7 linked regions of the Homo sapiens genome follow. The protein of the gene in region 4 interacts with the protein of the main gene of each other region in a pairwise test. Each region holds a gene or a part of one and is shown on either strand. Other genes may lie near its edges. The genes, in order: HSD17B11, CA8, CYB5R3, LRCH4, KASH5, RTN4 and NOTCH2NLA.

The links.
Region 1: the proteins of LRCH4 (region 4) and HSD17B11 interact in binary tests that used the Homo sapiens proteins (3 or more experiments, as listed by UniProt).
Region 2: the proteins of LRCH4 (region 4) and CA8 interact in a two-hybrid assay, tested with the Homo sapiens proteins (one large-scale study listed by BioGRID and IntAct).
Region 3: the proteins of LRCH4 (region 4) and CYB5R3 interact in binary tests that used the Homo sapiens proteins (3 or more experiments, as listed by UniProt).
Region 5: the proteins of LRCH4 (region 4) and KASH5 interact in binary tests that used the Homo sapiens proteins (3 or more experiments, as listed by UniProt).
Region 6: the proteins of LRCH4 (region 4) and RTN4 interact in a two-hybrid assay, tested with the Homo sapiens proteins (one large-scale study listed by BioGRID and IntAct).
Region 7: the proteins of LRCH4 (region 4) and NOTCH2NLA interact in binary tests that used the Homo sapiens proteins (3 or more experiments, as listed by UniProt).

The regions. Positions count from the first base shown.
Region 1 is NC_000004.12:87,384,689-87,388,188, reverse strand, and holds part of HSD17B11 (estradiol 17-beta-dehydrogenase 11 precursor), read left to right. Parts: intron 1-3,500. UniProt on the Homo sapiens protein: Can convert androstan-3-alpha,17-beta-diol (3-alpha-diol) to androsterone in vitro, suggesting that it may participate in androgen metabolism during steroidogenesis.
Region 2 is NC_000008.11:60,274,901-60,278,400, forward strand, and holds part of CA8 (carbonic anhydrase-related protein), read right to left. Parts: intron 1-3,500. UniProt on the Homo sapiens protein: Does not have a carbonic anhydrase catalytic activity.
Region 3 is NC_000022.11:42,632,393-42,635,892, forward strand, and holds part of CYB5R3 (NADH-cytochrome b5 reductase 3), read right to left. Parts: intron 1-3,500. UniProt on the Homo sapiens protein: Catalyzes the reduction of two molecules of cytochrome b5 using NADH as the electron donor.
Region 4 is NC_000007.14:100,579,630-100,583,129, forward strand, and holds part of LRCH4 (leucine-rich repeat and calponin homology domain-containing protein 4), read right to left. Parts: intron 2,831-3,500; coding exon 2,686-2,830; intron 2,539-2,685; coding exon 2,412-2,538; intron 2,254-2,411; coding exon 2,148-2,253; intron 1-2,147. UniProt on the Homo sapiens protein: Accessory protein that regulates signaling by multiple TLRs, acting as a broad-spanning regulator of the innate immune response. In macrophages, binds LPS and promotes proper docking of LPS in lipid raft membrane. May be required for lipid raft maintenance.
Region 5 is NC_000019.10:49,412,249-49,415,369, reverse strand, and holds part of KASH5 (protein KASH5), read right to left. Parts: intron 2,419-3,121; exon of another isoform or gene 2,403-2,418; coding exon 2,344-2,402; exon of another isoform or gene 2,266-2,343; intron 420-2,265; coding exon 374-419; intron 1-373. UniProt on the Homo sapiens protein: As a component of the LINC (LInker of Nucleoskeleton and Cytoskeleton) complex, involved in the connection between the nuclear lamina and the cytoskeleton.
Region 6 is NC_000002.12:55,019,452-55,022,951, forward strand, and holds part of RTN4 (reticulon-4), read right to left. Parts: intron 1-3,500. UniProt on the Homo sapiens protein: Required to induce the formation and stabilization of endoplasmic reticulum (ER) tubules. They regulate membrane morphogenesis in the ER by promoting tubular ER production.
Region 7 is NC_000001.11:146,166,522-146,170,021, forward strand, and holds part of NOTCH2NLA (notch homolog 2 N-terminal-like protein A), read right to left. Parts: intron 1-3,500.

The sequences.
Region 1 (3,500 bases), on a different chromosome or scaffold from region 4:
CTAGATTGTTTTTTTTTTTTTTGGTGTGACTACTAGAAAGATTAAAATTATATACATGGCTTGCGTTATATTTCTATGAGACAGTACCGGTGTAGAGATTTAAAGGGCTGGAGCTACAGATGATAAAATTTCCTGTATTTTGGCTTTTTACTCTGGGGAGTCAATGAAGGGTTTTGAGGGTAATTCCTATTGAAGAGGATCCTCCAGCTGCTGGGCTTAGGAGAGATGTAAGAGGAGAAAAGATGGAAGGAACAAGTAAAGTAAGAGACTACTGTGATAATCCAGGCATGAGATGAAATGATGGGGACTATTGAACCGGGTTGGCAGTAGCAGAGATTCGGAGTAATGGTCAGAAAAATTGAGGACAATGTAGTGAGTTTTTATTAGGTTAAATTAGTTTAATTTAAATAATCTATATTTTATTTTGAGATTATATCCTTCCTACTTTTTGTGGGTAAAAAATATATTTGTTAATGAAATTACATGATAACATATGAGGGTCATTTTGTTAGTTTTGAGTGTCCTTATTTGGCCAAAAGTTTGGCAATCCTAGTTCGGTATACACATCCCACTCTATTTTTCTTGCCGTTTTATAGATTTGAAATTATAGAAGGCTGAGAACCACTAAACCTGATTGGGAAAGGACAGGGTGGGGATTTGGAGCAGTCCAGGTAGCAGAAACTGGAGATGTGAAGCTCTTGGGCTGGTGAATACCTGGAGAATGAGGAAGAAAGTGGAGTGGTGTTTGATTGTTATGAGATCTAGCTGGCAGGGCAGGGAGGGGCCAAACGGAGGGCCCTTTCACCTAGAGTACAAAGACAATCTCTTAGATTCATCCATGTAATGAGGACAGCAGTGTCCACATGTACCATATGTTAATTTAGGGAAGAATTAATGGTGGTGTCAGCTTTGTTGTTCCACTAAGCCTGATAATGGGAATTATTCATTCTGCTTTGTGATAATCTATCACTTCTTGACTATTCTCATTCCCATGCTTGGTTAGAATAGTTTGTAGCCAGGCATGGTGGCATGCTTCAGTAGCCCCAGCTACTCAGGAGGCTGAAGCAGCAAGATTGCTTGAGGCCGGGAGTTCTGGACTGTGGTGCGCTCTGCATGTCTGCATAAGTTCAGAATCAATATGGTACCTTCTGGCGGTGGGCATGAAGGAGACCAAGTTGTCTAAGGAGGGGTGAACCAGCCAGGTTGGAAACGGAACAGGTCAGAGCTCTGGTGCTGTTCAGTAGTGGGATCATGCCTGTGAATAGCCACTGCACTCAACCTGCGCAACAGGGAGACCCTTTTTCCTAAAATACTAGTTTGGAAAGAAAAATTTACAGTAAGTGGTGAGCATATAATATATGCTCAAAGACTATTTGTTGAATGAAAAACTGAATTAATGAATAACTGAAAGAATAATGGGCATAATTTAAAAAGTTTTTCAATTTTTAGTAATCAAGGTAATGGGTGTAAAGGTCTTAGTTGTACCAATAGACAAACATATTTGAAAAAAGTTACCAAGGGAAATCTTGAAGAGTTATGAGCAATTGTACTGTGCTGCAAAACATTTTAAAGGAAGAATTCATTTTTTTTTTGAAGATCTGCTTATTTTTTATTTCTTACCAACTATCTACAGGGCACTGTCCGGAATTTTTTCTGGAGGAATTTAGAACTTAAATTTGTTGCACCGGCCGGGTGCAGTGGCTCACCCCTGTAATCCCAGCACTTTGGGAGGCCGAGATGGGAGGATCACTTGAGGCCAGGGGTTCAAGGCCAGCCTGGGCAACATGGTGAAACCCCGTTTCTCCTAAAAATATAAAAATTAGACGGGTGTGGTGGCGCATGCCTGTAATCCCAGCTACTAGGGAGGCTGAGGCAGGAGAATCACTTGAACCGGGAAGGCAGAGGCTACAGTGAGCTAAGATTGCACCATTGCACTCCAGGCTGGGTGACAGAGCGAGACTCCATCTCAGAAAAAAAAAAAAAAGTTTCACAATTCAGAAGGTGTGGAAAGCAGACCAACCTAAATGAGGAAGACCAAGGAAACAGGGCAAAAGTGAGACAGCGGATGTGAAAGAAGGGTATCTTTGCATCCATATAGTGGAGTGGTGGTTAGTTGCTTGGTGGTTACAGAAAGCCAACCAGTAATAAGCAAATCTCTGAAAACAGAATAAATGGGACATAAATTTTTATTGTAAAATTTGTTCATGTAAGGAAATATATTTGTTCAAAAAAGAGAAGACCCAATCAATACAATATACTTTTTTTTTTTTTTTTGAGATAGAGTCTCGCACTGTTGCCCGGACTGGTGTGCGGTGGCAAAATCTTGGCTTGCTGCAACCTCTGCCTCCCGGATTCAAGTGATTCTCCTGCCTCAGCCTCCCAAGTAGCTAGGATTACAGGTGCCCACCACCACACCCAGCTAATTTTTTATATTTTTAGTAGAGGCAGGGTTTCACTATATTGGCCAGGCTATTCCCAGAATCCTGACCTTGTGATCTGCCCACCTCAGCCTCCCAAAGTGCTGGGATTACAGGTGTAAGCCACCGCACCTGGCCAATACAATATACTTTTAAAAAACTTTTTAAAATATGGTAAAATATATGACATAACACACCATTTTAACCATTTCTGAGTGTACAGTTTAGTGGCATTAAGTACATTTACCTTATTATGCAGTGATCTCTTCTATTTCTCTCCAGAAATTTTTCATCTTCCCAAGATGAAAATCTGTACCCATTAAAACAATATATCTCCCCAGCCCTCTCTCTCCCCAGGTCCTGGCAACAACCATTCTATTTTCTGTCTCTATGAATATGATACTCTGGGTACTGCATATAAGTACATTCATATGGTATTTGTTTTTTGTGTCTGGCTTATTTCATTTGGCATAATGAAGGTTGTACGTGTAGCATGTGTCAGAAATTCATTTCTTTTTAAGGCTGAATAATATTCTATCCTATGTGTATACAACATTAATATACTTGTAAAAGGAAATGCCAAAAGCTGCTGGTTAAGTATAGGAGAGCAAAATAAAGTTTACCTGAGATGTTGATGTCCCTTGAGGAATAAGAGTTCCTCATGAGAGTATACTACAGTTTGTGAGGGAGATTTCAGTAAAAGAAAAATATTGTGGGAACCTGCCCCCAATATTTCAATGTAGCTTCTTTCTATTTTCCATAAGTGTCAGCCGGCTGAGAAATAAAGAGAGACAGTATAAAGAGAAATTTTACAACTGGGCCGCTGGGGGTGACATCACGTATCATGATGCCCCTGAGCCTCAAAACCAGCAAGTTTTTATTAAGAGTTTCAAAAGGGGTGGGGGTGTAAGAACAGGGAGTAGGTACAAAGATCACATGCTTCAAAGGGCAAAAAGCAGAACTACTGATAAGGGTCTATGTTCAGTGGTGCACATATTGTCTTGATAAACATCTTAAACAACAGAAAACAGGGTTCGAGAGCAGAGAACCGGTCTGACCACAGATTTACCAGGGCAAAGTTTT
Region 2 (3,500 bases), on a different chromosome or scaffold from region 4:
GCAAAGTAGGAAACTGAAAACAGAAAAACAGATTTAAAGTTTTTAAAAGGAGCAGTTAAACCTCATCATGCATGGTCAGGCATGATGATGAGATCCCTGGCAGAAGATGAAGGAAATGTGGACTTGCTAAATGGTAATAGTCTCCTGTCTGTGCCAACAACCAGAAAGCTGGTGGCCAACTTGAGCCATCCCCAACCCCAAAACAAAAACACAAACAGGAAACAAGCATATTCCAGATAAACCAATATAAGCAACAAAGACTCCTCCAACAACATGGCCAGGTCCTTTCTTGATCATGGTACTGTGAAGCCCAACAGCCCTCAATCCCTGCCCAGGTGCACAGAGCTTCTGATCTGCTTCCTAGACTCATTCTTAAATAGGAACGAAGAGCCAAAGATCACTGGACTTTTGAGGAGAACCTCCGAAATAAAAGAGGGATGCCAATATAAATAGAAAAAGAAACCCAGAGTAAACAGAGACAGGTAGGGATAGAAAAGAAGCAATATAGAAAAGAATGAAGAAAGATCATACATTCATGAAATAAATACTGGATGTTGTATTTTTTTTAAAAAAAAAGGTTTTTAATTGCAGCGTAAGTTCAATGTTTTAGAAATTAAAAACAAGAAAGCAGAAAGTAAGAGTTCAATCAAAAGACTAAACGATTAAAAATTGAGGAAATCTACTAGAAAGTAGAAGAGAAAGGGAAGAAGAAAGTGGGAGTTACCAAAAGAGGAGGAAAAAATAAAAATACAAAATTTATCAATGAAATAATATAAGAAATATAAGAAAATTGCTGGTAAATAAAAGACACAATTATCTTGACTGGAAAAACCTACCAAGTGCCCAGCATATAGTGCAGAAACAATCCCACCAAGGCATATGGTTGTAACATTTCAAAACAACAGTAGTAAAGAAAACACTGTAAAAGGTTCCAGAAAGGAAAAAAGAGAAGAGACACATAGAGGGGGTTGAGAAGCAGAACGGCGCTAGATCTTTCAACTGCAACGCTGGAAGCTTCAAGCAATGTAATCATGATGTCAAACATCAAACGAAGTCAAGAATACTTCCAACCCAGACTGCCGCTCCAGGCTAACTCCAATCAAGTGTGAAGTATAATAAAGACACTTACAGACACATAGGCATCCAAGCATGTAGCCCTCACTTGCCCCTTTTCTCAGGAAGTTCCTGGAAGATGAACTGTACAAGCAAATAAACCAAGAAATTCCCTGAGATGACGGAGCAACTCAAAAAAGAGGATGGCACGGCATCCAGAAAACATTCGATCTAACACAGGAGACAAACGAGGGGACTTCCACGGCATCCAGGAAACATCCGATCTAACACAGGAGACAAACAAGGGGACTTCCCAGGCTTGAGGTCCAAGGAGCTGCGAGAAGAGGCTGTTAGGAGAGGCCTGGAGAGCAGAAAAGAAAAGCAGCCTCCACAGGAAAAAGAAAGGACAAGGAGGAGCGAGGGAGGGAAGACAACCTGATGCACGCTAATGTCCTAAGAGAAGATCCGTCATATGTTAGAGAGTTTGCAAATTAATTACCGACAGATAAAAAATTCAATTAACAAAAATGCATTAACTCCAGGAAAATACAAAACACTGTTTAAGTGAGACAAAATATAATCTCAGCTGGAAACAACAGTTGCAGTTGTAATAATAAAAATAATGAGTATTAATTTAAATAAAAATTAATTTAAGTAGACTCCAGGGGAATGAGGCATGAGAAATTACATAATGGATACAATGTACACTATTTGGGTGACAGTTACACTAAAAGCCCGGACTCCACCACTATGCAATATATCCAAGAAACAAAACCGCACTTGTACCCCCTAAATGTATACAGATTTTTAAAATTAATTTAAGTATACAGCGATAATACGAGAGTGAAATCATAAGAAAGAGGGCAATAAGAAAACTGGCCTCGTCCAGGTGCTGTGGCTCATACCTGTAATCCCAGCACTTTGGGAGGCCGAGGTGGGCGGATCACCTGAGGTCAGGAGTTTGAGACCAGCCTGACCAACATGGTGAAACCTCGTCTCTACTAAAAATACAAAAATTAGCTTGGTGTGGTGGCGGGCGCCTGTAATCCCAGCTACTTGGGGAGGCTGAGGCAAGAGAATCACTTGAACCTGGGAGGTGGAGATTGCAGTGAGTCAAGACGCACCATTGCACTCCAGCCTAGGCGACAGAGCGAGACTCTGTCTCAAAAGAAAAAAAAAAAAAGGAAAGAAAATTGGCCTCGTCTTCAATAGTAGAGAGTTCATACATAGCTTACTACCAAAGCATAACAGCATTATTATATTCTTACATTCTTGGAGGTAACCACAGGAGAAACAGCTAGAAAGTTTCAAAGTAGTTGTTACTAGGGAACAGCAGCCGTAGGTGGGGAAGAGCAGGGGATAACCACAGGCAGAAAGAACCACAGGCAGAAAGAGTATTATTCACCTTTTTTTTTTTGAGACGGAGTTTTGCTTTTGTCGCCCAGGCTGGAGAGCAATGGCGCAATCTCGGCTCACTGCAACCTCCGCCTCCCAGGTTCAAGTGATTCTCCTGCCTCAACGCCCCAAGTAGCTGGGATTACAGGCGTGTGCCACCATGCCCAGCTAATTTTTGGATTTTTTAGTAGAGATGGGGTTTCACCATGTTGGTCAGGCTGGTGTCGAACTCCTGACCTCCACTGATCCACCCACCTCAGCCTCCCAAAGTGCTGGGATTACACTTGTGAGCCATCACACCCAGCCTATTCAACTATTTTGTATATATTCTATTTTGATAAAGATAAAACATTATTTAAATAAGCGAATGACAGGGTATATAGAGCTTACAAATGGTTCCTCTGAGGAGCTTAAATATCCTAGGGGAAAAAACAACTACTCAAGACATGGTTATTTTGGTTACTTTTCTTGAGTTTGCAGAAATATTGGAAGGGAAAGAACAATAAGGAGGAAATTATTACCATGACAGAGAGGATAAGGGGAATCTGAAGGAGGAAGGTCTCCAGGGAGGCAGGAAAAAAGGGTTCTGGATCATGAGTATCCAAATCAGGCCTAGACAGAAGTGCAGACACTTCTTCTTCAGTGGGCAGGGGTGGAAGAAGGAGGAAGAGAAAAGCACAAAATGCTAGGTGAGGAAGAAACACACTTCATGGTGAGAGGGCCCAGATGTTGGTCCATAGTCTCTGTTTTAGAGTGAGGCAGAAGATTAAAGAAAATTGTGTTTGAGAAGGTAGCAGAAGAAAATGGTAAGTTCAAATTGATGAAGTAAATTTTATCTCAGAGCAGGACTAGGCACACACAGATGCAGTGGAGTATATGTGCTTAGTCATTGCTCTCTGCTCCCACAACCCTTTGTAACACTTGCCACATCAAGTGTACACTAGTACTTTAAAGAACTGGCTTTTCACTAGGCTATGAATCCTCAAGAACTGTCTTATAAATTTATATGCAACCAATATTGATCATGGCACCTGACATGAAATGTATTTTTG
Region 3 (3,500 bases), on a different chromosome or scaffold from region 4:
CAGGACATCACAGATGCCCATCTCGGCTCAGTACGAGAACTCTCCGACCTGAGCAGTGTTCCAGCACAGAGCAGCTGCCTCAAGGAGAGACCCGTCCCTACACGTGTGAGCAGAGGCAAATCGCAGGAAAGACGGTGCAAACGCCACTCAGGATCAGGTGTGCAGGGGGCCCACCAACCTCTCCCAGGCAGCCCAGGCCTCAAAGCTGCCTCTACCAGAAGCTTCTGCATTAGGGGCAAACAGAGCCCCAAGGCCTTCTGGAAGTGGATTCCAGGACTATCAACTGGTCCTAAGGGTCAAGGTCAGACACCCATGTACCAGAAAATATTTGGAGGAAGAATAGAAATGAGATGGCCAGGCGTGGTGGCTCATGCCTGTAATCCCAGCACTTTGGGAGGCCGAGGTGGGCGAATCATCTGAGGTCGGAAGTTCGAGACCAGTCTGAACAACATGGAGAAATCCCGTCTCTACTAAAACTACAATGTTAGCCAGGCGTGGTGGCGCATGCCTGTAATCCCAGCTACTCAGGAGGCTGAGGCAGGAGAATCACTTGAACCTGGGAGGCAAGGTTGCAGTGAGCTGAGATCGCACCATTGCACTCCAGCCTGGGCAACAAGAGTGAAACTCTGTCTCAAAAAAAAGAATAGAAATGAGGACAAGAGATGAACAATTATGGTGCTGGCCAACCTCTAGTAGGGCAGCAGGGTGGGGCAAAGCACAGAGCACCCAGAGCAGGCCCGCTGCGGACCCCGCAAAGCCACCATGGGCACAATGAGGGGGCAAAGCTGCAATCCTAGGACATCTGCCACATGCTCCCTTGTGTAACATCCCTATGATGAAATACTAAAAGGATCCATGTTGTATGGCTGGCTACAAAACCAGGTTATCAAAAAAAGAAACTGAGTGTGCACACACCCGCACCTCCACACACCCGTGTATGAACGTGATACCCACATAGGGTCTGGCAGGCTCACGCTGAGCTGTGACCTGGGCCCTCTGCACGGGGCCCTGGGATGCGGCAATGGGGCAGGGGTGGAGGTCATACCTTACAGAGTTTTTGCTGTGAGCACATATAAATCATACATTATTTCTGGAATTAAGAAACAGTAGGGTCAGACGTGGTGGCTCATGCCCGTAATCCCAGCACTTTGGGAGGTCGAGGCGGGCGGATCACCTGAGGTCGAAGTTCGAGACCAGCCTGACCAACATGGAGAAACCCCATCTCTACTAAAAATACAAAATTAGCTGGGCATGGTGTCGCATGCCTATAATCCCAGCTACCTGGGAGGCTGAGGCAGAAGAATCACTTGAACCTGGGAAGTGGAGGTTGCGGTGAGTCGAGATTGTGCCATTGCACTCCAGCCTGGGCAACAAGAGCGAAAGTCCATCTCAACAACAACAAAAAGGAACGACAGTAACAGAGCCAGGCATAGTGGTGCATGCACATGGTCCCAGCTACTCAGAAGGCTTGTGCCCAGGAGTTTGAGGTTGCAGAAAGCAGCCTGGGTGACAGAGCGAGACCTTGTTCTAAAAAAACACAAACAAAAACAAAACAACCCACCAATAACAATAACAAGGGAAAATACCGTTAAAAAACAGGTTTCAAAATGTTATTATTTCATTTGGGTAAGAAAAAAACATGTGTGCCTGCTTACATAAGTATAAAACATATCACAGGGCCAGGCACGGTGGCTCACGCCTGTAATTCGAGCACTTTGAGAGGCCAAGTCGGGTGGATCACCTGAGGTCAGGAGTTCGAGACCAGCCTGGCCAACATGTTGAAACCCTGACTCTACTAAAAATACAAAAAAAAAAAAAATTAGCAGGGCGTGGTGGTGGGCACCTGTAATCCTAGCTACTTGGGAAGCTGAGGCAGGAGAACCGCTTGAACCTGGGAGGCAGAGGTTGCAGTGAGCCGAGATCACACCATTGCACTATAGCCTGGGCAACGAGAGCAAAACTCCATCTCAAAAACAAACAAACAAACAAAAAATCATATCGCAAGGTTAAGTGTGGTCTCATCTGGGAGGTGGTGATTTACTTTTTTTTGCTTTTTATTTTTTATTTTTTTGAAACAGAGTTTCGCTCTTGTCACCCAGGCTGGAGTGCAATGGTGTGATCTTGGCTCACTGCAACCTCTGCCTCCCAGGTTCAAGCGATTCTCCTGCCTCAGCCTCTCAAGTAGCTGGGATTACAGGCATCTGCCACCACGCCCGGCTAATTTTCATATTGATTGATTGATTGATTGATTGAGACAGCGTCTTGCTCTGTAGCCCAGGCTGGAGTGCAGTGGCACGATCTCGGCTCACTGCAAGCTCCACCTCCCAGGTTCACGCCATTCTCCTGCTTCAGCCTCTGGAGTAGCTGGGATTACAGGCATCTGCCACCACGCCCGGCTAATTTTCATATTGATTGATTGATTGATTGATTGAGACAGCGTCTTGCTCTGTAGCCCAGGCTGGAGTGCAGTGACACGATCTCGGCTCACTGCAAGCTCCACCTCCCAGGTTCACGCCATTCTCCTGCTTCAGCCTCTGGAGTAGCTGGGACTACAGGTGCCTGCCACCACGCCCAGCTAATTTTTTTTTTTTTTTTTTGAGACGGAGTCTTGCTGTCACCCAGGCTGGAGTGCAGTGGCGCAATCTCGGCTCACTGCAAGCTCCGCCTCCCAGGTTCACGTCATTCTCCTGCCTCAGCCTCGCCAGCGGCTGGGACTACAGGTGCCTGCCACCACGCCTGGCTAATTTTTTGTATTTTTAGTAGAGATAGGGTTTCACCGTGTTACCGGGATGGTCTCAATCTCCTGACCTTGTGATCCGCCTGTCTCAGCCTCCCAAAGTGCTGGGATTACAGGTGTGAGCCCAGCCACGCCCGGCCAATTTTTTGTATTTTTAGTAGAGACAGAGTTTCACCGTGTTAGCCAGGATGGTCTCGATCTCCTGACCTCATGATCTGCCCTCCTCGGCCTCCCAAAGTGCTGAGATTACAGGTGTGAGCCACCACGCCTGGCCTAATTTTCGTATTGTTAGTAGAGATGGGGTTTCACCATGTCGGCCAGGCTGGTCTTGAACTCCTGACCTCAGGTGATCCACCGGCCTCGGCCTCCCAAAGTGCTGGGATTACAGGCATGAGCCACCGTGCCTGGCCAATAATTTACTTTTCATTTTGTATTTTTTTGCTTCTCTCTGGTTGTCAACTTCTCTGTGAGCTCCTGGGACAATTACAGACACTTGCCCCAACAGTTACAGGAAACGGCCAGCTCCGTGCCATGGAAGCCTGAGATTCCTGTGAAGCCTGAGTCAGAGGCACCAGGCACAAGCCCAGGGTGGAGACTTGGGCCCTGGCAGATGATGTTCTCTGCTGTGACTCAGTTTTCCCTGCCACACCCCTCCTGTGCCTGCTGGGGGTGGCCAGAAATAGAGCAAGGGAGGGGCTCTGAAGAGGGCAAGTGACCGATGGAAGCAGCCTTTACTGGGGGCAAGGCAAAAGAGGGAGAGGAT
Region 4 (3,500 bases):
CATGGCGGCCCTAAGCACAGAATAAAACCCACAGCTCCCTAACCCAGCATGAGGAAGGCTTCCACAACCTGGCTCCACCCGCGTTTCCCACCTCACTGCCCACCCCTCCGGGCCCTCAGCTTCTGAGCCTTCCCAGGTGCTGTTTGCTCAGCTGGGAGAACTCCATTTTCCCCATCCATGCATCTTTCAAGGTTCAGCTCAAGCATCACCACCTCCTCGGTGGATCGTTCCAGACATCCCAGATTGGATGGAACTCATTGCTCTTGCCTCTGTCCCCAGGACATCTTGCTTGGATTTCTTTTTATGGCCCAGAGAGAGCCCTTCCTACCCCTTTTGACTGGGAAGGAAGAGGGCAGGTGCAGAAAGGGTCAGGGAGTAGGGAGACAGGGAAAGTGGATGACCACCTCACTCCCTCCTTGTTCTTCAAAACCAAGTTCACACTTGAGCATGGCACAGGCCTTCCTGCCATGCCTGGCTCACCTTCCTAACCCCATGCTTTGCACATGCTGGGTCCTCTGCCTGGATGCAGAAGGCTGGGGAATTCTCCTTCAATGTTCGGCTCCCACTGCGCCTGCGCCTCCGGTGAAGTCTTCCCCAGGACCCCCACGCAGAGTCCAGTGCCACCTCCCTCTAGCCCCCGTCTGGGGAACCCCCTGACGGAACTTCCCTATGACTGTCTCTCCTCAAGAAGCCATTAAATCCCTAAGAGATGGCCCCAGATCTTAGTCACATCACCCGCATCTACCTGATCCCAACACAGGAATCATACACACATCACACACACACACACACACACACACACACACACACACACACAAAACCCACACACACGCAAACAACATACATACACACAGACACAAACAACATGCACAACACACACATAAACATACACAACACATACACACAACCCACACAACACACACCCAAACACACACAACACATACAACACACACAACACAGACCTAAACACACACAACAGACATAAACACAAACACACACACAAAGACACACACAGACACAAACACACATACACATGCACAGACACACACGACATAACACAGACATAAACACAACACACACACAAACACAGACACACAAACATACACACGCACACACACGACATAAATAACACAGACATAAACACAACACACGAACAGACACAGACACACATACACATGCACATAGACACACATGCACAGACACACAGACACATGCACAGACACAACACACACATACACAAACACATACATACACACAGACACACACATGCACGCAGACACAAGACATAACACACACAGACACACACACATGCTGCTGCCTGCTGAACAAAAGGCATGCCTGCTTTGGGGCAGAGGCTATCAGTGCATCACAACAAGCACATTAGATGGGCCACCTGGGCTCTGGCACTGGCCCTGGCATCTCCGGGAGGAGTGGCGGAGCATCCCGACTCAGGTGTTTGAGAGCCCCTGCTGGGGTGAGCAGGGCTGCTGGGTGACCTTGAAGGCCCCTTCTGACCTTGCCAGTCTACCTAGAGCTGATGCACCCACCAGCTCCCCTTCTGTGCCTGTGTCCACGTTTCTAACACAGCTGCTCATCTGCGCCCTGCCAGCATCAGAGGGTTGCTAGGTCAAGATCAAATCAGATCGTTTACAGTTTGTTTTATATACTGCAAAAGCCTGGACAATGAAGGTGTAATTCTCCTCTGAAGATTCCTGGCCTGTAACTTCTTCAAAGCACATACACTGTTATGGACTGAAATGTGTCACCCAAAAAGTCCTCTGCTGAAATCCTAACCCCCAAAGTGATGGGATTAGGAAGCGAGGCCTTAGGGAAGTAATTGAGATCATGAGGGTGGAGCCCTCATCAGTGAGATTTGTGCTCCTTTATCAAAGAGGCCCCAGAGGGCTGTCTCTGCTCTCCGCCATCGGAGAGTACCACAAGGAGCCGGCAGTCTGCAGCCAGGAAAAGCACCCTGCCAGAAGCTGACCATGGAAGCACCCAGATCCTGAACTTCAGCTTCCAGAACTGTGAAAAATGAATGCCTGCCATGTATAAGCTACCCGGTCTGCAGTGTTTTCGTTACCGCAGCCTGAGCCAACTGGGACGCACATACAAACACCTCCTCTCCAGTTCTTCATTCTTCTCACCTTCGGGCAGCGTACTGAGCTGGTTCCTCCGGACATTGAGGTCCCGCAGGGAAGAGAGGCCACACAGTTCCGAGGGCAGGGATTGGAGCTCGTTGCTGCTCACGTCCTGGTATCAGGAAGGCAGTGGGAAGGGGCCATGAGACCAGGCCCAGCAGAACCCACCCTCCCATCTCTGTCTTTGCTCCAGGCCCTCCCCAACCTCCCCCTAGAAGGTCCCGCTGCCTGGCTCAGGGGTCCCTTTCCTGGTCCCGTCCCCATCCTCACAAGCTGTCGCAGGCTTCCCAGGGTGCCGATGTCAGGGGGCAGGGCTCCCAGCTTGTTGTTGCTGACGATGAGGACCCTCAGGGGCAGCTGGCAGATGTAGGGTGGCAGCAGCGACAGCTGGTTTCGGCTGTGGAAGGGAGAAAGGCAGCGGACTGGCTCCCCAGGCATGGCATCCCAGCACTGCCATCCTCTCGGGGTCACTGGGTGGGTCACTCAGTAGTACTTGAGACTGAGAAGCACACGCTCCCACGTGGCCCTGGCTCGGCCTCCCTACCTGAGGTTGAGGTAGGTGAGGGCTGTGAGATTCCCCAAGGCTGGGTTCAGGCATCTCAGGCAATTGTGGTAGAGGCTCAGGCCCTCCAGGGACACCAGCTGGCACGCCGCCTCGGGCACCTCGGGAAACCGGTTCCGGGACAGGTCTGGGGAAAAGGAGGTGTCGGGGAGAGTTGCGGAAAGGCCCAGCCCGGACAGGACCTTCAGTCCCCCCAGAGCCGGCTGCCCACTCCCTCACCTCCACACCTAAAGATTCAAGGCCATCAATGTGGCCTCCCAGGAGAGATAACAAAGCCTTCTGCCAACGGGAGCACATTCCAGGCGTGACCAGAATGGCACAGGGAAGGCAAAGGCCTTAGCGTCACTGGGCTAGAGAAGCCTCAGACTTGGGGGTTGGGGAATGTCAATGGAGGGCTATCCTGGAGAGCAGCTGGAATCTCTAACTCCTGTGGTTCCTGTTCAGAGATGCCAGGTGAGGCGGAGGACCGAAGGTGAGAGGAGGGGTCAGTGCTCATGGGAAAACAGTAAGGCGAGGGGCTGGGGGGCTCCCGGAGGGAAGATGGGAAACCCCTGGGGCAAACCACAGGGAGTGCCCATCCCTCCTCGGGGCCCTTCTTCCCTACTCCAGTGTGTTTTCAACACGGGAAAAACCACAGGTCACTCTATCTTGGTTCTAGAGATAAAGTCCCCGACACCGGACGAGTTTTTCGCCAGCCCCAAGGACCAGCAAGCCAGGTCCAAAGAATCATAAAGTTACTGATTCCCAAGGGCTGGGAGGGAAGGGCAAGAAGACCTGGTTGGAGATGGGAGCTGGAG
Region 5 (3,121 bases), on a different chromosome or scaffold from region 4:
AGTTCTGAGGCTGGCTGGGGAGGGCCGGCCCAACCTCTCCCGAGTGTGGGCGCATGTGCGTGTGCATTTATGCAATCCGGGGGTGTAGCCACGTCTATGAGGCCTGCGGTGTGGTGGCTGCAGCCCTGTGTGTGTGGCTGGGAGGGTCCCCTGGGAGCAGCCTGGCCGCCCACTAGCCTCCAGGCCTCCCCCCACCTCACCATCGCTCTCATTAGCTACAGCAAAGGCCTTGTTATCTCTTGGCCAAATGATTTTTCTCTCTGCTCCTGAGGAGTTGGAGTGTGAGGCTGGGGCTTGGGAAGAGTTGAAACGACTCAGCCTCTGTGGGTGTGGAGTGGATGGGGACTGGGGAGGGGTGCTGGGGACTGCCTACCGTGACCTGGCTCTCTGCATCCTCCTCTTCCTCTCTTCTGGTCAACCTGAGGGCCAACAAAGTCACTGCTGGCTTCGTCCTCTTCTCCCTGGTTCCCTTTGCCTACTATGGGCTGGGAGAGAAGCCTTGGAGCAGGGGGTCTTAGCACAGGCCAGGCAGCACGGACGGGCCTGGGGGAGGCCAGGCAGCACGGACGGGCCTGGGGGAGGCCAGGCAGCACGGACGGGCCTGGGGGAGGCCAGGCAGCACGGACGGGCCTGGGGGAGGCCAGGCAGCACGGACGGGCCTGGGGGAGGCCAGGCAGCACGGACGGGCCTGGGGGGTGTCCTGCATATGTATTTTTCACAGGAATTTTCACCAAATTACCCAAAGGGTCTGTGAACCACTAAAAGAATAAGGGGGCCTCTTCATCTCAGATTGGTTTTCTCAGCCACTACTTCCCCAGCAGATCCCCCAGCTGGGAACTGAGGCTTCTGGCTCTCTCACCCTCCAAAATACCAGAGATTCAGGCCTCTGTAAGACCCCAGAGCACGTGTCGAAACCCCCTTCCTGTCTAGTGGGTTGAGCCATTTTTCAATGACTGTCACTGGGTGCTCTCTGAGGACTGGGACTCCAACTCAGACCTCCCAGCCCACAGAACTCAACTGTTGGAGCTCTTCCCCATGCCGAATCCTCTTAGGTGCAAGACCCTCTTCCAGGAGGACTGGAAGAGCCCTGAGGGGTTAGCATGCCCCTCATTCATTCCCATCTTCCGGGAGTAGACCCTGGGCCTGTAGGCCAGGAGATGAGACCTGACCCTTCCCTCAGCGAGTCTCGGTCTAGGAGGAGATCTGGCTCCTGACCCTGCCTCGGCGGGAGGCTCCTAGGGAGGCCCCTCCTAGGGTCACAGCCATCTGAGTCCCTGAAATGCTGCTTTGGGGACTCAGGCCTCAAGCTGCCCAGCCTGAATGCCCCTTAGAGACCCAGCCATCCATACCACCAGCCACTGCCTTCACTGGGGACCAGAGATCCAGCCCTGCAGTTGCCACCACCACCAGCTTCAGACCCAAAACCCTCAGAGATACCCTCAGGAATACAGCTGTGCTCCCACGCGATAAAGGATCCAGGCTCTTAGGCCCCAGTCAGACATACACTATCTGATCCCCTGAAACTTCTACTTGGGACCCAACCCCTCTCAAGGTCCAAGCCCTCACAGCTGGCTACATTTAGGAGCCGTTGTATTCACCACCTTCCTCACTCCCAGCTTTCCAACCTGCGGATCAAACTGCCCCTGACCTCTGGAAACTCGCATGGCACCTGCCTCCCCCACTTCCACTACTGCTCAGCCCCTTCTCCCCTCCTTTCTCTGGTGACGCAGAGGGAGGTCATAGCTCCAGAGCTCCCATCCCGCCCAATCTCAGCTCTTCCCAGACAAGTCCAATTAGAGGCCTTGGCAGGCAGCCTCATTAGTAGCCGCAGCTGGGAGCCTGAAAGAGGGGAGGGGGAGAGGGAAGCAACACAGGAAACCAGAGGCCCGAAGGCCAGGGCCCCGGAGGAGGGTGGGCCCAGTCATCTAGTGCGTTCTCCATCCTCAGAGGCCTGGACACAGCCTCCTAACAATCACATCCCAATCACAGGGCTGGGACTTCACGGCATACAACCAAATGCTTACACCAGCCTGACTGCAAAGTACCTGAGCTGGAATCTGAATCCACGCTGATTCCAGAGGCCCCCCCTCACCCCATTCAGGCATGGCAGCCTCGCTGGGAGCCCTCCCCCAAGGCAGGGTCAGGAACCAGATCTCCTCCTAGACCTGAGGGCAGGGCCAGGCCTCATCTCCTGGCCTACAGGCCCAGGTTCTGCTCCCGGAAGACATGAAGAAGGAGTGAATGAATGAATGCCGATCCCCTCAGGGCACATCCAGTCCTCCTACTGTAAACAGCTGTGAATAAGGTGTCACCCTGAGGCAGACGGATGGCTCAGCTCCTTACCACATGGATGGCTCCTTCCTTCCTTCTTCAGGGTGCGCTGGCTCTCCCTGGAAGTTTCTCTGTGGAAACAAAAAGGTTAGTTCTTCTCTGATTCTTCTCACTCAAAGCTCCAACCCTAACAGTGCCCACTGTCTCCCCCGCCGGTCCCAGACCCCATATACAAAAGGTCTTCCAGGCTGCAACCTACACATGAATTCACCACCTTCTACAACCTGCCCTCCTCTCGTGCTGCCCTACATGAGGATGGCCCTATTAGCCCCCTAAGGGCAGAAGCCAAAAACCAAAGGGTTGTTCTCGATGCCACCAAGCCCCCTTCCCTGACAGGACCCAGGAGTCCCGGTTGCCTAAACTTCCTGGATGTTCCACAGATCTCGTACACTTATCTGGGTCCCAGAGGAGATCAGCATTTCCCTGTCCAACCGCCTTCTCATCCCAGGTTCCCAGACTTGGGCTGGATCTATCTGCTCTCCCTCAGGACCCAAGTACCTCTCGGTTTCTCCAGAGACATATTGGCATTGCCCTTGACCTCAGCAACCAACTTGCCATTGTTTTCTAAACGCAATCCTCGAGCTCCAGGATGGTGCACCCAACTCTTCCAGGCAGCCCCCAGACATCCCTCAAGATTTCACCTCACAAGGTCACAAGTTCCAAGTCTTGCCTCCTTTCCTCCCTCCCCATCACCCACATCCCGTCTGACCCCTGCTCTGTCCCTCCACCCCAATTATGTCTGTCTGTCCCTTTTCCTCCATCCCTAGGGCCCTGGCCTGGCTCAGGCTTC
Region 6 (3,500 bases), on a different chromosome or scaffold from region 4:
TCATCTTGCCCAGACGGTCAAAATTAACATAACCAGTGAGGGACTGATGAATAGCAGATAACTCTAGAAGTGGTGCTATGAGAGGGACACATCATCATCTATACAGTATCATAAATGAACCCATAGCCTCAAATTAATCACTAGGAAACATCGGACAAATCCACTAGGAGGAATGTTCTATTATAAAGTCGGGGGAAGAGAGGCCCTGTGTTCTTTAAAACTGCTAATGTCATAACAAATAAATAAAGACTGAAATGGGAAGTCCTACCCAGAGCAATTGAGCAAGAGAGAAATAAAGGATATCCAAATTAGAAAAGAGGAAGTCACATTGTCCCTGTTTGCAGATGACATGATCTTATATAAAGAAAAACCTAAAGACTACCAAAAACTTGTAAATTCTGTAAAGTTGCAGGATATAAAATCAATAACAAAAATATCGCATGTCTTTACACAAACAACAAACTAGCTGAAAAAGAAATCAAGTAGGAAACTCCATTTGCAATAGCTTAAAAAAAAATACCTCAGAATAAGTTTAACCAAGGAGGTGAAAGACTTCTACGAGGAAATCTACAAAACAATGATGAAAGAAATTGAAGAGGATACAAACAAATGCAAAGAAAGACATTCCATGTTCATGAATCATAAGAGTTAACATTGTTAAAAAATGGCCGTAATATCCAAAGCAGTCTACAGATTCAATGCAATCCCTAATAAAATACCAATGACCTTCTTCACAGGAATAGGAAAAAAAATCCTAAAATCTGTATGGAACCACAAGACTCCAAAAAGCAAAAGCAATCCTGAACAAAAATAAAGCTGGCGGAATCACACTACTAAATTTCAAAATATACTACACAGCTATAGTAACCAAAACAGCATGGTACTGGCATAAAAACAGAAACACAGACCAATGGAACAGAACAGATAACCCAGAAATTAATTAACATATCTATAGCCAATCAATTTTTGGAAAAAAAAAAATGCCAAGAACATTCATTGGGGAAATGCCAAGAACATTCATTGATACTACTACTGAGAAAAAAAATCAGTATTTACATTCCAATAGTAAGAATATAGTTTGTCACAAATTTCTTTGTAAATGGAGGGGGAGGAAGACCAGAATTCATTAGTTTCTTGACAAACTTTACTTCCCAAAATTAATAAAGCACCATCTGCATCACAATACCTTATTCATCTCTCTTGCAAAATCAATCTTTCTTCCCAAAACTAAAACTGATTTCTGCCTACAAAATGTCATTTTAAGAAAACAAGAACAGGAAAGTCCTGGAGGCTCACACCTGTAATCCCAGCACTTTGGGAGGCAGAGGCGGGAGGATCCTTGAACACAGGAGTTTGAGACCAGCCTAGGCAACAAGGCAAGACCTCCTCTCTACAAAAATAATTAGCCAGGCATAGTGACACGAGCCTTTGGTCCCAGCTACTTGGGAGGCTGAGGACCACCTGACCCTGGGAGGTTGAGGCTGCAGTGAGCCATAATCTCACCACTGCACTTCAGCCTGGGCGACACAGCAAGAACCTGTCTCGAAAAAAGAAAAGAAGAACATATGAGATAATAAATGATCTGAGGAAATTAGTATTTTATTATTTAATAGTTTAAATGTTTAAATGCATATACATTAATAAGACCCAGAATTTTTTTAAAAACACACTTAAATATTTCATAATTAGAGATGGCATAAAACTTTTAAGTCATCTGAGAAGAGAGCTTCCCTTATGTTTTATCAGACCACTGCTGTATTTTGGTACATTTGACTTCAGTACACTTGAACCTCCCTTTCACGAAGATACACAGGTAAGTACCTATCCTCACTATAACATAGATCACAATGTTTAACTATGTCCTCAACAGTGTGTCTGTACCAGCTGGCTGTAAGTTGCATAAAGCGCAAAACTTTGTCTTAGTTTCATCTTTTTCCCTGCCCCCCCCGCCAAAAAAAAATCTCATATAGTGCCTGATAGAAGCATGTTAAAGCAACTCTTACCTGCTTTTACACTTTTTTTTTTTTTTGTCTTTTTTTTCTCCCTTTTTTGTGGAGAACGGAGTCTCACTATATTGCCCAGGCAGGTCTCGAACTCCTGGGCTCAAGCTATCCTCCCACCTCTCCCTCCCTGAAAGCTGGGATTACAGGCGTAAGCCATTGTGACTGGCCACTACTTACCTGCTTTTAACAGATGCCTGTTATATAATCAAGTCAAGAAAATTATTAAGTTGCAAGGACTTGAGCTAATCCACCCTTCCTTTTATAGAAAAGGAAAATGACATCTAGAGAAACAAAGTGATTGTCAGTGGTATAGCCAAGACTAAAACCTCAGGTCACCTATATTGTTTTCATTATAGCAATACTGGGTTTCCTTCCCACAACTTTTGTAGAATATATATATTGGGTGTATCTAAATAATTCTCTATTCCCTAGTAAGTTGCTATGATAACTAATATCAAAAAAGGTTAAGTCAAAAAGGCAGGAAATAACAATTTTCTCAGAGAAGGGAGATAAACATATTCTAAAAGAGAATGCCCAAGCATTGCTTACACTTTCTTCCACCATTCCCATTAAGCTTTCAAAGGCAATGCCCCCTTTTCTTCCCTTACTTCTAAACTATTAGGCTATAGATTTCCCAGGTTTAACAAAAACAATCCAAGAAATAGGTGACTCCTGAAATACTGAAATTCCTAAGGGCCACCATCTACTAGAGGACTGCTAGCTTTAAGTTTTGGGAGGAAGCACTAGCGGGGAGGGGAGACTTCAAAGGTGTTGCTACACCGATTACTCCTTGCTCTTCACCCAGTCATCACCAAGCTGCTCTGGGCTTCTGAGACCCTTCTTTCTACTGTTCCCTCCTAAACCATTTTACTGTGCTGTTTGAAACCCCCATTCCACTGTGAACCAGCTCCTCTACTCCTCAACATCTTTACTGAACATTCCTGCCTTTACCTCGCCTTCACTAAAACCTGGCTGTTCCTTGAAGATACTGGTTTCCCTGTGGAACTTGCTAAATGAAGGCTAAATCGTTCTCTCATATTCTACACACCTAAGGGAGGAGTGGGGAGGTCAGTACCCTCTGCTCACCAATGCTGCTTCCAGACTTTTATTTCAGAGACCTTGGGCAAAAGTCTTGGCTATTCCGCTACGTCATTCTCTGTCCTTCCTCATTTCTTCTACCTACCATCCTGCCAGTTACCTCACTGCCCTTTACCAAGGACTCTAACCCCAGTATTCCTCTCCACCCCTAGTCCTGCCATCACCCTGGGTGACTTCAATGTTAGGTAGAAGTGCAATACAGTATCATGGCCTCATAGTTTACTTGACCTCACCTCTAGCAATCTTAATCTGACTACACAGTAGGCCTTTGCCTGATGGCCTAACACTGGCCATTATAATCAACCTGAACTGCTATTCCTCTGAAATTCTAAATTCAACATCCAACACACACACACACACACACACACACACACACACCCTGCTCTCCCGCACATGCAT
Region 7 (3,500 bases), on a different chromosome or scaffold from region 4:
GCTAAGGCTCTGGGCATCTTCATGAGTAGGTGTAGCTACAGACCAACAGGCAGTGAAGAAAGTTCATAGCACTGAAACCAAAGATGGCATGCAGGTGACTGTGAGGAGTCTGTATCAAGAAGGTCAGAAGGTCTGGTTTGGAGTTCTGGTGCTGTGACCTTGGACAAGTTACTTATCTTCATTGACTATCCATTTTCTCACATTGTAAATAGTTAATAAGGTCACCTACATCATGAGATTATTCTAAGAACTGAACAAAATCAAGTATGTAAAAAACCTTATAAATGTTAAAAAGTTTTGCAAGTGGGCTGGGCACAGTGGCTCACACCTGTAATTCCAGCACTTTGGGAGGCTGAGGTGTGAGGACCATCTGAGGTCAGGAGTTTGAGAATAGCCCGGCCAACAAGGTGAAACCCTGGCTCTACTAAAAATACAAAAATTAGCCAGGGTGGTGGTGCACGCTTGTAATCCCAGCTACTCGGGAGGCTGAGGCATGAGAATTGCTTGAACCCGGGAGGCGGAGGTTGCAGTGAGCCGACGAGATTGTGCCACTACACTCCAGCCTGGGCAACAGAGTGAGATTCCATCTCAAAAAAAAAAGTTTTGCCAAGTGAAAACATCTTTTCTCTCTTCTTTGTGCTTATTGAGGAAAATACAATGCCCCATCCAAATCACAGCTTGATTTGAGAATAGTTTCTTGTGTTGGTTTTTTGAAGTGGAGGAGCAAAAAGTGCCAATGTAGCATAGCTAAAATTAACTCTGAGATATATTATTAAAAGCATTTGCAGCTTATTCAAGAAATGTGTTATGAATGTTAAAAACTGCAACACAATTCTCACTCACAGTGCAGCCCTCTGGGCATTATTAGATGACTCTTCATTCTCCCATATGGGAATTATGCACCTTCTAAATAATGGCAAATTTTTAAACGTGGGTGGGCTTTGCTCAGCTTTGCTCCTGAACTATTACACCACCCTAACACTATCATGTGGCATATGCTAAGAGAATGCAAAGTCATTTAAATGGTAGCATCATAAACATATAATGGAAATATAAGGTTCCCAGGAAAACAAAAATGAAGCAAAATGGAAGTTTCTAAAGCTAAACAGATGTATTTCTGAATTATTTGTTTCTACAGTTTAATTCACATTGTTGCTCCCTATCAAGTATGGAAAAATAAGTTTTAACCTAAGATATATTTAAGAAATCAGTAAAACCAGAGATTGACAAAGTACAGTTTGCAAGTCTAATTTGGACCACTGCCTGTTTTTGTTTGGCCTGTGAATAGTTTTTTACATTTTTAAATGATTAGAAAAAAAGAACAAAAGAAGGATATTTTCTGACATTTCAAAATTATATACAATTCAAATTTCAGTGTCCATAAATAGTCTTACTGGAACACAGCCATGCTCATTCATTTATAGATTGTCTATGGCTGATTTTCCACTACAACAACAGAGTCAAGTAGCTGTAATGAGACCACAAAGCCTGCAAAAATAATTACTCTCTGGCACTTTACAGAAAAAGTTTGCCAACTTCTGAGTAGAGAACATATGAAGGCTAATTCTATAAATACCATCCAATATGCTTATTAATAATGATCGGTTTCTGATAGGAAATCAACCTTATTAGTTTCCACAAAGAATATTAAACTTATAATCGTTCATTCACACAACAATTAGTAAATGCCTATTATGTGCCAGGCATTTTTCCAGTGCTAGAAAAATTCTTACACTCTTGGAGTTTACATTCTAATAGCGGAAGACGAAAACAAAATTACTAAGTAAAAGATGCACAATAGATGGAGTTAAGTGCTGTGAAAAAAAATTAAACAGGAAGGAATGGAGCTGGGGATGAGGGTGTGGGGTGAGCAAAGAGAAGTATCTCAGTTTAGAATAGGAAAATCAGAGAAGACCTTCACTGACAATACTTGAGTTGAGACCTAAATAAGGTGAGAGTAATCATGCAGGTATCTTAGGAAAACACATTCATGAGAAAGGGAACAGCAAATGCAAAGGCCATAACACAGAGAGCAGCCCTAGCGTGTTTGAGAAACAGCAAGAATATCTGGAGCAGCAGAAAATAGATGAGAGCTGTAACTGGGATGTGGATCAATTGGGGCCTTTAAGCCACTGTAAAGAAAGACTTAGGGTTTTCCTCTAAATGGGATAATACTTACATATGAGGTACAACAGACTTACTCTCCTAAAGCCCGTGTACAGAACCATATATTTGCTTTACGTGAAACTAGACCTACTGTATTAATAAAGTTTGATTTCTATTTAAAATGTTTTAGAGGGCTGGACATCAGCTTAGTTCTTTACTTTTACCTTAGAAGATATACAAGTCTCTTTTAACCCACACTTTCATGAGGTCCCATTTCCCTTTCCAAATTATTGTTTCACAGCTAACCTTCTATGACTGTAGCCTAATTTCAGATATTCCTCTTTCTTTTCCATCTACTTCTTACTTATCCCTCTGCAACAAAACTTTAATTCTAATTATTGTTTAGAAACTGTTTTCTAAAAACAATGACTTTCCTCTAGTCAAGTTCAGTGGTCTCATCTGAAACTTCATAAGGAAATTCTCTCTCCTATAGGGAGAATTGCTAACCACTCCATGTACCGTTTTAATCATTTTACCTTGGCTTCTATGCCTCCCTCTGTCTAACTCAAAACCCAGTGAAGTCTTAGTCTGGATTGCTGATTTCTCCTTCTTCCCCATCTATTATGGCCACCCTAATGTTTAAGTCTGGACTGCACTGCTCTTTCTCTCAAATGCATTTGTTACTGTTGTTGTTCACTTGGTTTTAAACAACTTCCTTCCTGTAACTGACTCCAAAATACACTGTTCCAGTCCCATATGTTCAGTTTTCTAGAAGTCATCTCTCTATCCTAATATGTGCTGCCACTATTTGAAACTAAACATTTGTAAAAGGAGATCATCTTCCCAAGAAACTTTAATTATTCAATTTTTCTAAGGCTTCCACACACAATTTAAAGTAACTTCATCTCTTTAAGTTGTATATAATTTATTACCACATTCTGACAAGACTTGTTAACTGAATTCCTATAATACTTATCATTCGTGTTCACAGTTTCCTTTTTGATACAAATTCTGATCATCTTAAAAGCCTCAGGCCAGACATCATCTTGTTGCTGGCTTTTCCCCCATTTCCAGCCATCCTTGGAATAACAGAACCTTCAGATTCAAGAAATTTAATTTCTATCCAATTAAGTAATCATTTCTAAAATATTTCTAAAAGATGATCACCAGCCTCTGCTTGAATACAAGCATGTAGCATGGTGCCGGATAAATCTTGAGAATTTAATAAATGCTTGGAGTTATTATTGTTCTGCTCTTAAGAGTACAGACTCTGGAACCAGACCACCTGGATTTCAATCCCAACTCCACCATTTACTCAATGTGTAGTCTTGGGCAAGGTACTAAACTTCCCTGTCGTAAAAGAGATGTAATAACAGTGCCTACTTCATAGGATT